Homo sapiens: one gene and its partner. The protein of the gene in region 1 purifies or fractionates together with the protein of each later gene. This does not show direct contact. Each region holds a gene or a part of one and is shown on either strand. Other genes may lie near its edges.

What was found.
Region 2: the proteins of FAM20B (region 1) and ASPHD2 purify together in Homo sapiens (co-immunoprecipitation; 3 studies listed by BioGRID and IntAct, with this or other methods). This does not show direct contact.

What each region holds. Positions count from the first base shown.
Region 1 is NC_000001.11:179,021,507-179,029,625, forward strand, and holds the start of FAM20B (glycosaminoglycan xylosylkinase), read left to right. Parts: upstream 1-4,387; 5' UTR 4,388-4,592; intron 4,593-4,617; exon of another isoform or gene 4,618-4,682; intron 4,683-8,119. UniProt on the Homo sapiens protein: Responsible for the 2-O-phosphorylation of xylose in the glycosaminoglycan-protein linkage region of proteoglycans thereby regulating the amount of mature GAG chains.
Region 2 is NC_000022.11:26,431,641-26,439,259, forward strand, and holds part of ASPHD2 (aspartate beta-hydroxylase domain-containing protein 2), read left to right. Parts: intron 1-1,751; 5' UTR 1,752-1,975; coding exon 1,976-2,861; intron 2,862-7,619. UniProt on the Homo sapiens protein: May function as 2-oxoglutarate-dependent dioxygenase.

The DNA of each region.
Region 1 (8,119 bases):
CATTTACTGAAGCGTATATGCCACAACAAAGTGTACACTTTGGGGTAGTTAAACAAATTTCTATAGCCATACATGACAGTTAAGTGATACACAGCTTTGAGAGCCATAACTCCTCTGCATTTCTTACTAACTCTAGAAATCTAACATATCCATTAATGTATTTTTCTTTTTGCTTTTACTGTGCAGATTTAAAGAACAAAATAAATAGGTAAATATATTTTCAGAATAAAAAAGAAAACATCCCGTATTACTTTTGGGGGTGATGAAAATGTTCTAAAATTAGATTATGTTAGTGGTTGCTCAACTCTGTAAATATACTAAAAGGCACTGAGTATATTTTAAGCAAGTGAGTTTTGTGGTATGTATATCTCAATAAAGCTTTTCTTAAAAATAATATTGCTAGAGTGAAAAAATAACCGAAATATTCCCACCACTTTCAGAATCCACAGCCCGAATGTCTCAGCAGAGAAGCTGGGTGTGCTGTGTATGTATGTAGCTTATGATGCTGTCCCTGGGACGTGAGTTGTTTGCTCAGATGGCATTGACAGGGGTGCCACGTGATGGGGTAAGTGGGCAGTCCGTTGCTATAAGCAAGAGGCGGGCTGGGAGTAGCTCTGCAGATCTGGTGGCAAAATGAAAGAAAGGAGTTTTCCCTGTTAGGAAAGAAATGCAGAAGCAGCTGTCCACAGACAGCCCAATGCAGAGAACAAACCTGCCTGGGAAGCAGCTGAGGCAGGGCACATGCTCCTGGAAGGAAACAGAGAGATATGTGTGCTCCTTTACTCGCTAGCCTTTCCCGTCACCCTCTCCCCAGGCTCCTGGCACCTTGGAACAGCGTGAGCTTTCCTAGGGCTCCTCTCGACTTGCTTGATGTAGAATTAATTTAATTAGTTTCAGAGGGATCCATCATGGTGGCTGTGTTGCCTAGGTTAAAAGAAACTCTGTGTGTGTGTGTGCGCGCGCGCGTGTATGCATATATATTTTGCCTTCGTGTATGCAAAAGCACCTTGAGACAATATCCTCCTTCTAACTTGGGATTGCTGGACTGTTATTGGAGTCCTAGGGCTTGACAAATTGGCAGAGACTTGGAAATTCTGAAACAGTTTAAGGAAAATGCTTACAATGATGAAGGAACCAAGAAATAAGTCTCTGGGGCTCAATTCCCTGCTCTGTAGTACATGTTCTCAAACCTTCCTTTCAAGCATTGCATGGCTACCATGGGCCATGTGCAGTGTTAGTGCTACAGAAGACGCAGATGTCAATACAACCCGGGGAACGGGGTCAGACAGATCCCCAAAGACTTCAATACACCCCACCGCAAGACAGTTACAAATAAAGTGCTGGGTCTCAGAAGCCAAGGAAAGCATGTGCAGTTGTTGGGAAGGCTATGAAAGGCTTCATGAACAAGCAGCACTGAGAGCTGTATAACATTTTTACAGGTGGGAGTGAGGTGGATTTCCTGGAGGAAGAATCAATGTGATCACAACCATGAGGGCAGGGAAAGGACAGCAAGTGAGCCCCTTAGGTTGGAGGATAAGGAATTAGCAGAAAATGGTCCTGAAAAGGTGACTATGGCAGTAAATGCCAAGCACAGGTGTCCCTATTGAATTCCGCAGGCCACGGACAAGCCTCTGGTGGGTTCCACACTGGGGCTAATTCCAAGATTGGGGTTCCACATTGGGGCTAATATCCATCCTTCTGCTAAGGATGCCTACCACCCTTGGCTGGAGGGGGACAGCCAAATTCCTGCTCTGGTTTTAACTCAGTGAGCTTCAACACATCAATGTGGAGAAGGTACTTCGTATGAGGCACTCTACAAGTGGGAATAAAGATGAAATAGTGTATGTCTTTAAAAATCCTTGCAGTTTGGGAACAAGGAAGAAGGGCAAAGAGGAGATTAGACAACGACATGTAGAACCATACATCGTATGAGTGGTAAAAGGAGCATCACAAGAGTCTTGACAAAGTGCTCAGACCTCCTTAATTGGGGTTCCTGCCAGCTTCTCAAGAATGGGAACCAGGCTTTCTTCATCTCTGCATGGTCTGGTAGCTCAGTGCCTGGCACTTGGTAGACATTCATTAAATGAATGAATGTATGCATCAGTGAATGAATGAATAAACAAACAAATGAACAATTCTCCTGTCACGCAGGATCTGCTGAAGATGGCGGCTGTAAGTTCACAGAGCACTGCCTAACTTTGGTTCATATTGTTCCTCTCTTCTCCTACCTGTATTTTGCTCACCTCAATACCAGCCCACACTGTTTTCCTGGACTGTGATTCTTTCAGTGATCACAGAGTCTGTGCTGCATAATTTAAGTGTCCCTATTCCTTGCAGCTGCTTCCTGTGTGCTAGTCATGTAAACGCCCTTCTTAAATGATTGCATCCCTCACAATACTTAGAATATATTGACTGTTGATTGGTTGGAAAATAATCCCGTACAGGCGGAGGGGGCAGAAACTGACATCATGGAGTGTCAGGCACGGTGCTGGTGCTATGCATACACTCAACAAGGGCCTGGGTAATGCAACATGGAGAAGGGAAAACTGGGGGGCAGAACAATTTTGTCGTCTGAAAGCCTTTCACAGAGAGGCCCTGAACCCATAGCTCTCCTTCTCTGAGGACAGAAAAGGAGGAAGTGTGTCTGTCCTGCAGTATGTGGGATGGATAGATGGATGCGAAATTAAGCACTGAAGTGGGTTGCTTGGAGAGGCAATGACTGCCCCCTGCCCTCACCTGAAAATCCTTAAAGACAGAAGGGATCATCCGCCCAGGAAGCTGAGGCTGCAGGATAAGCTGGCCTTTTCCTGAACAGTGACAGTTGGAGCGTTCACCCTCACTGTCCTTGTCAGAGTTACAGGCAAGAAAGGAGAATCCTTTTGGATAAAGTGTCTTAAAGGAACTGTTGATTTACCCTTTTGCTTTATGGTCTCCTGATGTAGTGAGCAAGGTTCAGGGAGATTAGCTAACTGCAGGCAGACTGATCTTCCTGTGCAGAGAAATAAGGTAGATTCTCATTATCTTCCAGCTCATTTTCCCAAGAATTATGTATTCTCCGGCCAGAAAACGACCTCCAAACCTCCAAACCTTTTCAACTACACGCAGCAAAAAGCTAATACAATGCCTTCTGCATTTGACTGTACGTCTCCTGCAGTGATTAATGCTGCCTCCCTAACTACATTGTCCGGAGCAAGTGTCAAGCCCAATTATTTCTCTAGGATCTCCTGATAGTAAATGCTCAGCAAATATACAGACGAATAACACCTAATCATACACAATAATCTTAGAGTACTTTCCCCATACATTTCCTAACTTAATCCTTACAACAACCCTGTGAAGTTATTAACTCCCATTTTCCAGTTAAGGAAACTGATGCTCAGCAAAGTTAACTGGCACATCCAGTATCATACAGCCAGTAAGAAAGAATTCTGTTCAGTACGCCTTACTGATTAAATGAACTATGTGGCCTGAAGAAAAAGTGTCAGCTCAGTCTTTCCCCATCACGCATCTTATTCCATGGAGTAACCTGCATTATATTTCAGGGTCAGGCACACTAAGTTTGCGCTTTAGTATATGGTGAATAAATGGATGGACACAGTGGCGGCTCTGTATAAGTCAGCTGAAAGCAAACAAAGGGAAGGCAGAATCTTTCATTCACACGATTTATCCGCGCCCACTGGGTGCACTACGGTCGGGCATTGGCGACCCAGGAGCGACTGACCTGCCCTCATGGGGCTTACGGTCCTTAGCAAAAAACAGATGTAAAACAACTAATATTACAGTAAATGAATCATAATTTTGTGAGATGCTCCTGAAAGTATGTAGCAGGACGCTCCGCTCTGGTCCGAATGAAGAGCCATTTGCACTCAGTGTGGAAAGGCTAGCCTTTTTCTGGGCAAAAGAAGCGGGGGATACATTTAGATAGGCAGAAGTTCCGAGCAGAAGTCAAGGCAAATTAAAAAGGCAACAGGAGGAGGGAAAATGCTTCTCACAAACAGAACTCGACCTAGGGGACCGCAACTCTCCAGTCCTGCTGCTTGGCTGCCTACCTACCTAAGAAAAGCAGGAAAGAAAAAGAGAAGACGGGGTGGGGGATGGAGGACAAATACAGAAAAAGAAAAAAGAGCGAAGGAAGTGAGAAGTGAGAGGCCAGTTTATGTAAGCGGGCAGGGCGGCGCGGCCGGCAGGAGACCGGCGCCGGCGCCGAGGGAGTTAAGCGGACGGGCCCGGTATGGAAGAGGTTAAGGGGGGCAGTCCGGAGCGGGTCCGGTAGGGGCCGCCTACTGGGCGGGGGCGGGGCCGCGCCGAGCGAGCGCTGGGATTGGCCGTCGGGCAGGCGCTACGCTAGGACGGTACCAACAGCCGGGGGCCTCGGAGGCGGGGGGGTGGGTGTGGGACTGCCGCTCTGCGCGGCGAGAGGTGGCCTGGGAATGGCCGGGCCGGGGGTGGGCCGGAGCCGCTGTGGCGGCGGCGGCGGCTGGGGGCGGTGAGCGCGGCGTGGGGCTGCCCCTCCCCGGAGGCGGCGGGGGCGGCCGGGGCCGCGCCGCACCGCACCGCGCGGGCGGCCATGGAGCGAGCCTAGGGCCCGACAGGTGAGTGGCGCGGGGGCGGGGGAGGGCGCGCGACCCCCGCCCCCGGCGCGGCGGGCGGGAAAATGCGGACCGGCACGCGGGCGGGGCACGGTACGTAGCGCGCGCCGGGCTGGGGCCGCCTGGGGGCGGGGCGCCTCCCTGAGGGGCCGGGCACCGGGTGCCCTGAGCCGTCCCCGAGTGGCTGCGGGCGGGTCCCGGGCGAGGGCCCGAGGCTTCCTGGGAGACCCGCTCGGGCCGCGTGTCCCTGTGTGCGGTCGCGGCTGAAGGGACGCGGCCTCGGCCGCCACGTCCCTGGCCCACCTGAGGCGCGGGCCCACCTGGGGCCGCCTCAGGCTGCCAGAGGTCCTTCTAGTGACCGTCTCTCGTCCCCTTGCGCGGTCCCCAGAGGCGATTGGCCCCGGTGCCTCTCTTGTGTTCCCCGGAGCGCCCGTTGAGGCAGCCCAGGGAGCGCGCCCTCGCGGGGTCTTTGCTGGGCCCGCCTCGTGGCCGGGAAGCGCGAGTGACCTGCAGGCCGGAGGCGGAAGGCGGGGCAACCGTGCCCGGGGCCCGCGGTCTCCTGGGGTCCTGCGCCGGGCGCTCGCAGAAGGGCACAACTTAACGAATGCTGTGTTAGCCCTCAGTGGGCTGCGCTTGAGATTTCATTTCCGGGTGTGACGGCCCCGCGATTAAGAGCGGACCGATACGTTTCCCTTAATGATGAATGTGAATAGTTGTCGAGCTGCGTCCTTGATTGTGGGTTCTGATAAGAGATTCATTCTAATCTGACTTCTGTTAACCTGCCAGTCTCCGGATAAGAAGAGAAGGGGTAGAAGGATGGATTGGAGGGAAAGTAGGGGTAACAGGGCTTGGTTAGTCTTAATGGAATTATTAGTCCTTTTAAAGACCATACCATCATTGGGATGGATAAGGAGTTTCTAATTTGGGAAAATGAGAGTTGCTTGCTATTGCGACTTGGGTCTAGTGCCAGATATCAGCATCTTCCCCACCCAGCCAGCTTCCCTCTGGAGGTTTGATTTCTCACTTGGAAGGGAAGTAGGAATGTGGGGTTTTTTTTAGCCTTTAGCCTTTAAACTGTAGGACTTTATAAATCTATAATCTGGTACAAATTACTATTGCCATTTATTAGCCACGCCTATGTTTTTTGCGTTGTAAATTCTTGCAAAAATTTCACTGGCGTTGATTTCTAAAAATCTGGTTAGAGATCTCAGTGTTCTTATGTATTACAAACATTCCTTGAGTTTATGCAGGATCTTTGAGCTAAGCTTAGAGCACTTCCTCAAATATGATTCGTTATCACGACTGTCTGAGAAACTGAGGTACAAATGGTAAAGATGCTAAATTATTTGCCCAGACTCATAGCCAATCTCAGGGAGATTTAAAATCAATGTATTCTATTAATAACTTTTCTAAAGTTTGCAAAGATGTTGGACTTTGGCCTCTCGAACCGTACAATGGAATCAGTCAGCAGGAGTCCCTTTCCCATTTGAAATTACTTATCAAAGGAGAATACAAAGGCACACACAAGTATAATTCAGACTCTCAGCCTCACTCATGATAAAGTGCAGTGATAAATATGGATACAGGTAAAAGATGATCAAGACATCTTGGAGTTCACAGCGTTTCTTTTCTGTGTGGTGAAAATGTGACATTGGTATGCTCTATTCGTTTCTCTAGAACTGGTAGGACAGTAGCTATGTTTTGGTGAATGAATGGAAACTAGAAAACACATACACTGCTTTTCTTTTTGGTTCTTAAGATTAGAGAAAAAACACATCACTGCTTCTATCATCTTTATTTTTATAATCTTTTATATCATGGAAGTATTTTATGTTAAATTGATAATTCCTTGACTTTTAGTTCATTCCCTTGATTTCCATTTGTAGATTCCAGCCCTTTCACACAGCCTTAAAGTTTCTGCTTCTTATCTCTTCTGAATTTTAAATTCCTAAATGAAACTTTCTGTTCCTTCAGTTTTAGGGCAGACTTCAGCTTCCCACACTTTGTGTGTCTATCATTTCATTGGTGTAAAACCCTAAAATCATTTCATTAGTGTAAAACCCTAAAGCCAGATACTTCAGCTGTTGAATTGATAACTTTTTAAAATAGCTAACCACAGAGGTTGTCTTTTGGTGATTGCCACAATCTCATAACAGAAGCAGGAGGGCGTTCTTTGTATTCTGTAAGAATACATAAAAAGACAGTTGGTCGGGCGCGGTGGCTTATGCCTGTAATCCCAGCACTTTGGGAGGCCGAGGCAGGCGGATCACGAGGTCAAGAGATTGAGACCATCCTGGCCAACATGGTGAAACCCCGTCTCTACTAAAAATACAAAAATTAGCTGTGCATGGTGGTGCACGCCTGTAGTCCCAGCTACTCAGGAGGCTGAGGCAGGAGAATCGCTTGAACCCAGGAGGCAGAGGTTGCAGTGAGCTGAGATTGCACCACTGCACTCCAGACTGCTGACAGTGAGACTCCGTCTCAAAAAACAAACAAACAAACAACAACAACAACAGAAGGAGACTGTCTTCTGAATCTGACTCTTAGTCCTTCTGGGACTAAGTGCCAGGTGGTTTTGTGGATTGGGATGGGGAACACAGTTACAATGAGGCCCTACAGTTTGTTGTAATTGTTACAGTAATCTGTGTATCTGTGTATTTTTCTCTCTGCACCTGACAGTGCCTGTATGTAGAAGGTGCACAATAAATATTCGTCAGTTGAATGAATAAATGGAAAACAGTATGAGGGAAGGGGAAATATTCTAATGTATATACTAAATTATTTAGTTCCTCTTTTTGTCAAAAGAAAAAAAAAGCGTAGAAAATGTGTTTCGGATTACTGTTCAAAATATTCTGTAGAGGTGTGTTATTTGCTTCTGTGATTATATGGTGTTCTAAACCACCTGGAGCCTGGCAGTAGCCTGTGCAGGTTCCAGTCAAGTGCAGCTTCACAACCTTGCTCCTACAGTCTGTTCTGGCTAGGCTAATTGGGCAGTTGGATTGATAGCCAGTGTTTTTGCATTAATAGAAGAACTTAGAGCTCTTGGCAATGGCCATGTCAATAGCATTGACCTGACTGCCCTTGTCCCTTATTTTGACGGTGGAAGAGGGGAGTTATCCCTTTTTAAGAGTACTTCTCCAGCAGTTCCTTCTTCTACACCTACATATATCTTCCTGTTTTCCTTCAGCTGTCTCTGTAACCCCAAGTACTAATGAATTCTTTAACATAGGCCTGGGCTGCAGAACAGAAGCTTACTTTGCTATTGAAACCAGCTTCTGACTAACTTACAATGTCAGCATGACTGCTCGAGCTGCCTAGAAGAGAAAATAATGCAAAGATCTCACTTCTGATTTGGTCTTTCTTACCAAAAACAAAAGAAGAAATGCCTAGCTTGGGATGTAAAGAATCTACATGACAGATGGGTGCGTCTGTCATCCCAGTGTGAGATAAGAGAAAAATGTAAGCTGATGCAGAAGAGACCTTGAGCTTTGGTGTGTGTTTAAGGTCTGTACTTTCTGGCAAGATAACCC
Region 2 (7,619 bases), on another chromosome or scaffold:
CTGGGGACAAAAAAGCCACTCAATACATGAGGCAACAAGAGTGTCCAGGATTTACCTTTAACTGTTGGAATTCCGAGTCTTGCTATACCTTTCTCTCGTGCCCCACCTTTGGAACGCTGGCTACTCATTATGGGATGCCACCCATCCTAGCCGTCGCCTGCATATATTGGGTGCTCATTATGACGTGGTCGTAAGTGCTGTCCATCCGCCATCATTCATCTTCATCCAGTGAGATGAACACGAACCCCATTTCATGGATAAAGAAACTGAGGCAGCCAGGCGCAGTGGCTCACGCCTGTAATCCCAACACTTTGGGAGGCTGAGGTGGACGGATCACCTGAGATTGGGATTTCAAGACCAGCCTGACCAACATGGAAAAACCCCATCTCTACTAAAAATACAAAATTAGCTGGGTGTGATGGCGCATGCCTGTAATCCCAGCTACTCAGGAGGCTGAGATAGGAGAATCACTTGAACCTGGAAGGTGGAGGTTGTGGTGAGCCAAGATTGCACCATTGCACCCCAGCCTGGGCGATAAGAGTGAAACTCCGTCTCAAAAGAAAAGAAACAGGCTTAGGAAAAGCGATCTGCCCAAGGTTGGGATGAATCCTCAACTGGGCCCATCTCTAATCTGGCTTCTCTCTGCTACGATGCTGCAAGAATTTTCAGGCCAAATTTCAGTCCCTGGGTAAAGGGAGGGTACAACTTTTCCATTTTTTAAGCTGTGAGAGGGTAGAGTACAAAAGGGATATTTGAAATTGTGCTCCCTGAGTATCAGACTTGTAGAAGCAGAGACCTGGCTGTTCTCATTGTATTAGAAGAAGCAGGATGAACAAAAGGTTTTGGAGAATGCTGGGAAACACGGCTGGGGTTTGAGAGACTTAGGCAGCATGACATTCAGGCCCTTTTAGGTTATTAGGACAATGAGAGTTCCGGGCTCTGTCCCTAACCCCCAGCTAGGTAAGTGGCAAAGCACTTCTGGCTGTTTTGGAGATGCTGTCAGCTGTGGGAAACTGAGGCAGAGGCCTGGAAGGGCTTTTATTTTCATTCTACCTCCCTCATTTTCCTTTCATGACCCTATGGGTGAGACCATAGGTAGTCTCCAGGTGGGTAGACAGAAAATGCCCTTTGCCGCAGGCATGACCTCAAGAGTGCCTACTTCCTCTTCCAACTTGGTATTAGCCCAACCTCTGTCAGAAGGGCAACAGAATGAAATAAGGATGATGAAATGCTTGCAAAGAGAAAGTGAAATGGAGAATATGCAGTTTTTAAGTCCCTTTGCCATTTTTAAGATGCTTTTGAATCCAGGATTCTTTTGAATTAAAGGTACAGCGATCACAGGAGTATAAGCATTGATTAAATACCTATGATGAAATAGCACAGCAAAATGGGTAGACATGGGCCTTGAAGTCAGATGGGGTTTGAGTCTCTGCCCTGGCTGTATAACTCTCGTGAGTTATGTAACTTCTCTGAGCCTCAGTTTTCTCATCTGTAAAATGGGGATAATAGCACCTCCTATGGAGGGCACAAAGCAGATGGGACCACTGTAATTATAAGCAGTACCTGATGCAGATGAAATACTACTGGCCTTTTGGGAAATGGGAGTGGCAGTAGAATGGGGAGGGAATACACAAGATTGCAAAGTGTGACCCCCACCAACTAGGATCCTACAGAACGATCTAACACTTTACATTTCAGTTGAGGACTTTTCCAGGTGTAAAATTTATGCTGATTTTTTTTTTCCATCCCAGGTTTGGTTTTCCTAAACAAATCCTTTCACAGGGACCGACGGCACTTGATAATGTGACAAAAACCAGCCTCTTCCACCCCACTGCAGTGACTTTTGCCGGAAAGTGGAGCAGTGGGCACGGCCAACCTTGTCGTTCATCAATGCCGCCCCTGGCAGTATCTGAGGATCGGTGGCAGCCATGCCTCCCCCTGCCCCAGCCGCTCCTTCCCCCCCACGCTAATCTGCATGGTGTGGGCGCCCTTGGGACCCCCGAGGACTGATTGTCTGACCTTGCTTCACACGCCCAGTAAGGACTCCCCCAAGATGTCGCTCGAGTGGCTGGTGGCCTGGAGCTGGTCGCTGGATGGCCTGAGGGACTGCATCGCCACCGGCATCCAGTCCGTGCGGGACTGCGACACCACCGCTGTCATCACTGTGGCCTGCCTCCTGGTCCTCTTCGTGTGGTACTGTTATCACGTGGGCAGGGAGCAGCCCCGGCCCTACGTCTCCGTCAACTCCCTCATGCAGGCTGCCGATGCCAACGGGCTGCAGAATGGCTACGTGTACTGCCAGTCCCCTGAGTGCGTGCGCTGCACCCACAACGAGGGCCTCAACCAGAAGCTGTACCACAACCTGCAGGAGTACGCCAAGCGCTACTCCTGGTCCGGCATGGGCCGCATCCACAAGGGCATCCGCGAGCAGGGCCGGTACCTCAACAGCCGGCCCTCCATCCAGAAGCCCGAGGTCTTCTTCCTGCCCGACCTGCCCACCACGCCCTATTTCTCCCGGGACGCACAGAAACATGATGTGGAAGTGCTGGAACGGAACTTCCAGACCATCCTGTGTGAGTTTGAGACCCTCTACAAAGCTTTCTCAAACTGCAGCCTCCCGCAAGGATGGAAAATGAACAGCACCCCCAGCGGGGAGTGGTTCACCTTTTACTTGGTCAATCAGGGGGTTTGTGTTCCCAGGAACTGTAGGAAGTGCCCACGGACGTACCGCTTGCTCGGAAGCCTTCGGACCTGTATTGGGAACAATGTTTTTGGGAACGCGTGCATCTCTGTGCTGAGCCCTGGGACTGTGATAACGGAGCACTATGGACCCACCAACATCCGCATCCGATGCCATTTAGGTATGTTGCAAGGACAGGGGTCTCCCGGCATGCACATTTGCAAGCTCAGCCCCTCTCCATCAAAACATCGCGAAAGCTCAAATGGTCAGAATTGCGCCTTTTCGCATTGTTCACTTTTAGCAAAAACTGATGAATTGCATGTAAACAATTTGACAGCAGAGATTGAGTCAAAAAGAAATCTTGTGATCAGTGCAAACCTAATTTCTGACAGCAGCTCTGTGCAAAGAACTTTCTGCAGTGACAGAAATGTTCTCCATCTTCATTGTCCAAAATGGTAGCCACTAGACACATGTGACTAATTGAGTGCTTGAAACTTGTCTCCTGTAACTGAGGAACTAAATTTTAATTTAATTTAAATAGCAGTGACACATACGGCTAGTGGCTACCGTATGGGGACAGTGTCGTTCTAGAGCCAAAGACTTGTTAAAATGATTACCGAGCTTCATAATGATGTCCAGGAGGCTGTGAAAGATACTTAAGCATCTTTGCAGTCATCAAGGATGAAATGATCCTTGGTGATAAGCTTGTTTTACTCCGATTCTGAGAAAATTGGTCGTATGCGTACTGTGTGTGCGGCTGTGGTTTTGCAAACAAAGACTGGAGTTAGACAGCCTTTGTTTGCATCTTGGCCCCACCACGAGCTGTGCTACTGTAGGCAAGTCATTTCACCTCTCTGAGCCTCAATTTCACTATTTGGGAAGTGGAGGTAAAAAGATCTTCTCCTAAAGAGTTATTCTGAGGATCCAATCAGATAATGTGTATTGTATGTATGCACACAGAGCCTAAAATAGAGCAAGTATTCAATAAAAGTAGGCTTAAAACAACTTAATCATGGAGGTATTAGTTCCCCAGAATGCCTTATTCCTGGTGAGTGGCGATAAAAAGCTCGTCTCTGGGATGGTGGCATCACCGGTTAGTATCTCAGATTAGAGTGTGCAGAGACAGCCTTGGCAGCGTCCAGCTTTACAAAGTTCACAACGCTGCTTCAGCTTCAGTAGGGAGGAAGGAAGAGCAGCAGGAGGAACCTGGTGCATGGGTTGGAGTGGGAGTTTCATAACCACGTTCTGCAGAGGAGCCTCAGGGCTGCCTGGGAAGGAGCCGGAGCTGGGGGCCCCCGAGCCCTCTTCACCCTCAGCAGCTCTGCTTCTCCTGCTGTCTGTGTGGGGGTTCTGAGTAAGATGTGGTTTGGATGGAGGATATCACTGCACTAAAAGAAAAGAAAAGAAAAGAAAAGAAAAGAAAAGAAAAGAAAAGAAAAGAAAAATATAATGAGATTTGAGCAATTGACATGGTAGGAATTTCAAGAGTAAAGGGCGGACTGGGTGGAGGCTTTGGGGGAGGTGGCCTGAATTCCTGGTCAGCAGTCAGCCGTGAGACTTTGAGCAGGTCACTGAGTCTCTCTCTGCCTCAGTTCTTCATCTGTAAAATGGGGAGATGGTACTTACTTCACAGGATTGTTGAGAGGATTCAATGAGTGGCATCTTACATGGCCCCTTGGCAGGATTCCTGGCACGTGACAGCATTTGATGAATGGGAGCTAGTAGCTATTATCAAGGACTGTGTTGGACCATGTGAAAAATGATCCATAAGACATAGACCCTGCCCCCAGGAAACAGTGGGAAAGGAACAGGCTTCGGAAGCAAACAGATCTGGACTCAGGTCCTGGCCTCGCCCCATTTGCTGAGTGACCTTGGGCAGGGCTCTGAACCTCCTTAAGCCTCCGTTTTATCTTCTCTAAAACAGAGATGACGATTCCCACTTGCTGGCTGTTTTGAGGAGTGGGAAGTAATATGTGTAAAATGCTTGGCAGGTAGAGGGCAGTGGACAGTAAGCTAATCTAAGTGATGGGATGATAATCCAGGTGATGGTCATTAGCAAAACTGCTGTGCGAGGCCCCAAGCCTCACTTGGCTGCAGACGGGGTGCCCTGGGGAGGTGGGTCTGACACTGGAGGATCCCCACACAGAAATCAGGTGCCGCCAGGGTGGAGCGAGGGAGCGGAATCATCCCCTGGGGCTTGGGGAAGCCGGGTCTAGGCTTGCTGGGGAGGCCAGTAGTGTGGGCTGAGGTTGGACAGGTCAGGTGGGAGCAAACCTCAGAGGCCCTTGATGCCAGGCTTGAGAATGGAGGCCGTGGGCAATGGGGAGTGATGCTCTTCTTTTGAAAGGTTTGCCTTTATGTATTGTTTTAAAACTTCAGAATGACATCTGGGGAAGGGCATTTGAGGACTGATGTGGTAGAATTTCAAAGAGGTGTGAGTAGGAAGTGATGGTAGCAAGGAAAATCTGGGGTTTGCTTTCTGTAGATTAACACTTGTTGTTCATCTGTATGATATGCATGCATGTGTGTGTGTGTGTGTGTGTGTGTAAAACATGCCCACGCTGGCTCACACTGTGGCCTGTGGCCTGTCATTCCTTTCTCAGCCCAGCTAGGTACTTGCCAGAAAAAGTAGGCCCTCCATGTTCCTGTAGATAGCAGGAAACCTTCTTGGAAGACGTCCCACTGTGGCGTGGCTTGTTCTCCACGGCCAAGGCGAGCTCCCTGGTTGGGTTTTCTCAGCGTTTCCTTCTTTACACTATCATGCCCACATTAATATCCACCCAGGAAGGAAACAAAGGTGTGTCGGATTTATGTGACCTTGTGTGTTGACAGAGAGGGAGTCCAGAGAATGAGGTCAGAAGCAGGATAAGCCTGGTGCGTACCTGGTGGCCACACCTCTGCTGGTTACCTGGCTGAAGGTAGAGGCACCTGCAGTTCCAGAACCGTGCTCTTGAAATGCCAATGCTTGCTTTTCTTCTGCCTTCTGCCTGAGCTGTGACTGATGGAATTGTCCCTGTGGACCACTGAAGACCCAGCCACTGCTCCTCACTAACACAGCCCATTTGTTCGAGACATATTTGCTGAGCCCTGCTGTGAGCTACTTCTAGAGGTGGCATCACCTAGTCCCGACTTCATATGGGACCACAGGACAGCTTCAGGCCCACCCCCCACTCAGCATCGTACACAATGCTGGGATATTCCAGATGCACTGCCACAAACTTCCAGAAAACCACCTCTGAAACTCACCAGGCAGATGTTACCAGGGAGGCAGATACTTCATGAAAATGCATGAATATGTTCAGCAAATTCTAGCTAAAGAAGCACAGTTAGACTCTTGTTTTTCTTTTCTGCATGTCATCAGATTTCTAGGTGGTCTAGCCGGGTGGTAACAGTAGATCAGCTCATGTTCCCCTTGCCCACCCTGAGTGCCCGGTTGCCAGCCGCCTGAAGTGGGGGCCACTGGTGGACACAGCCCTTTCTCTACCCTCCTTCCTGCCTCTTTCAGGGCTCGGTAGGGACAGAGCAGCAAAGCTTGAGCCATAGAGGAGCATATGGGACTATCTGAGGCCATGTGTGGGACCTGTCACTGTCCTCAAGAGCCACTGGAATGATCTGTTTAGGGAAGAATTGAGCTCTTCTGCCAACTAAGCTGGTTTGTGGGCAACAGGCAGGAATGGGGGCAGGAGCAGAATGAAGGGGAGGCGGAGAACAAGAAGCAGGGGGGTGTCAAGCCAGCAGGCCAGGCCATTTTTCTATCGCACCGTGGCACGTGGCGATGAATCATTTAGTGGCCCAGAGAAAGGGGAGCTTCTTTCTGAAACCCCGGGGTGGCTGTCCCTGCAGAGAACTGCCCATTCCTAAAGGCCTTCGCCACCTGAACCAGCCAGTAGGGGCACACGCCAAAGGAAAACGTAGCCTCTGAGTCCCTCCATCTGGGCGTCTTTACAGCCCTGACTCCCCCAGCTGCTGTTAACCATAGTGGGAAATCATGGCTTCTGTCAGGATGAGCAGTCTCAGCTGATTTAATGAAATGTACTATTGAGAGTTGAAACATATTAGGGTCCTCTTAGAGGGACAGAACTAATAGGATATATATATACACACAGATATATACACACATACATATATATACATATATATACACACACACATATATATACATATATATAGATACACACATACATATATATACATACATATATATACATACATATATACACATACATATATACACATACATATATACACATACATATATATACATACATATATATACACACATATATACATATATATATACACACATATATATACATATATATATACACATACATATATATATATACACATACATACATACACACACACACACACATATATATATAAAGGGGAGTTTATTAAGTATTAACCCACATGATCACAAGGTCCCACAATAGGCTGTCTGCAAACTGAGGAGCAAGGAAAGCCAGTCAGTTTCCAAAGCTGAAGAACCTGGAGTCCGATGTTTGAGGGCAGGAAGCTTCGAGCACTGGAGAAAGATACAGGCTGGGAGGCTAGGCCAGTCTCACTTTTTTATGTTTTTCTGCCTGCTTTATATTTGCTGGAAGCTGATTAGATTGTGCCTGCCAGATTAAGGGTGGATCTGCCTTCCCCAGCCCACTGACTCAGATGTTAATCTCTTTTGGCAACACCCACATAGACACACCCAGGATTAATACTTTGTATCCCTCAATCTAATCAAGTTGAAACTCAGTATTAACTATCAGACATGTTAACTACAAGAAAATCAGCAATCAGGCCAGGCACAGTGGCTCAAGCCTGTAATCCCAGCACTTTGGGAGGCCGAGTCAGGTGGATCTCTTGAGGCTAGAAGTTCGAGACCAGCCTGGCCAACATGGTGAAGCCCCATCTCTACTAAAAATACAAAAATTAGCTGGGC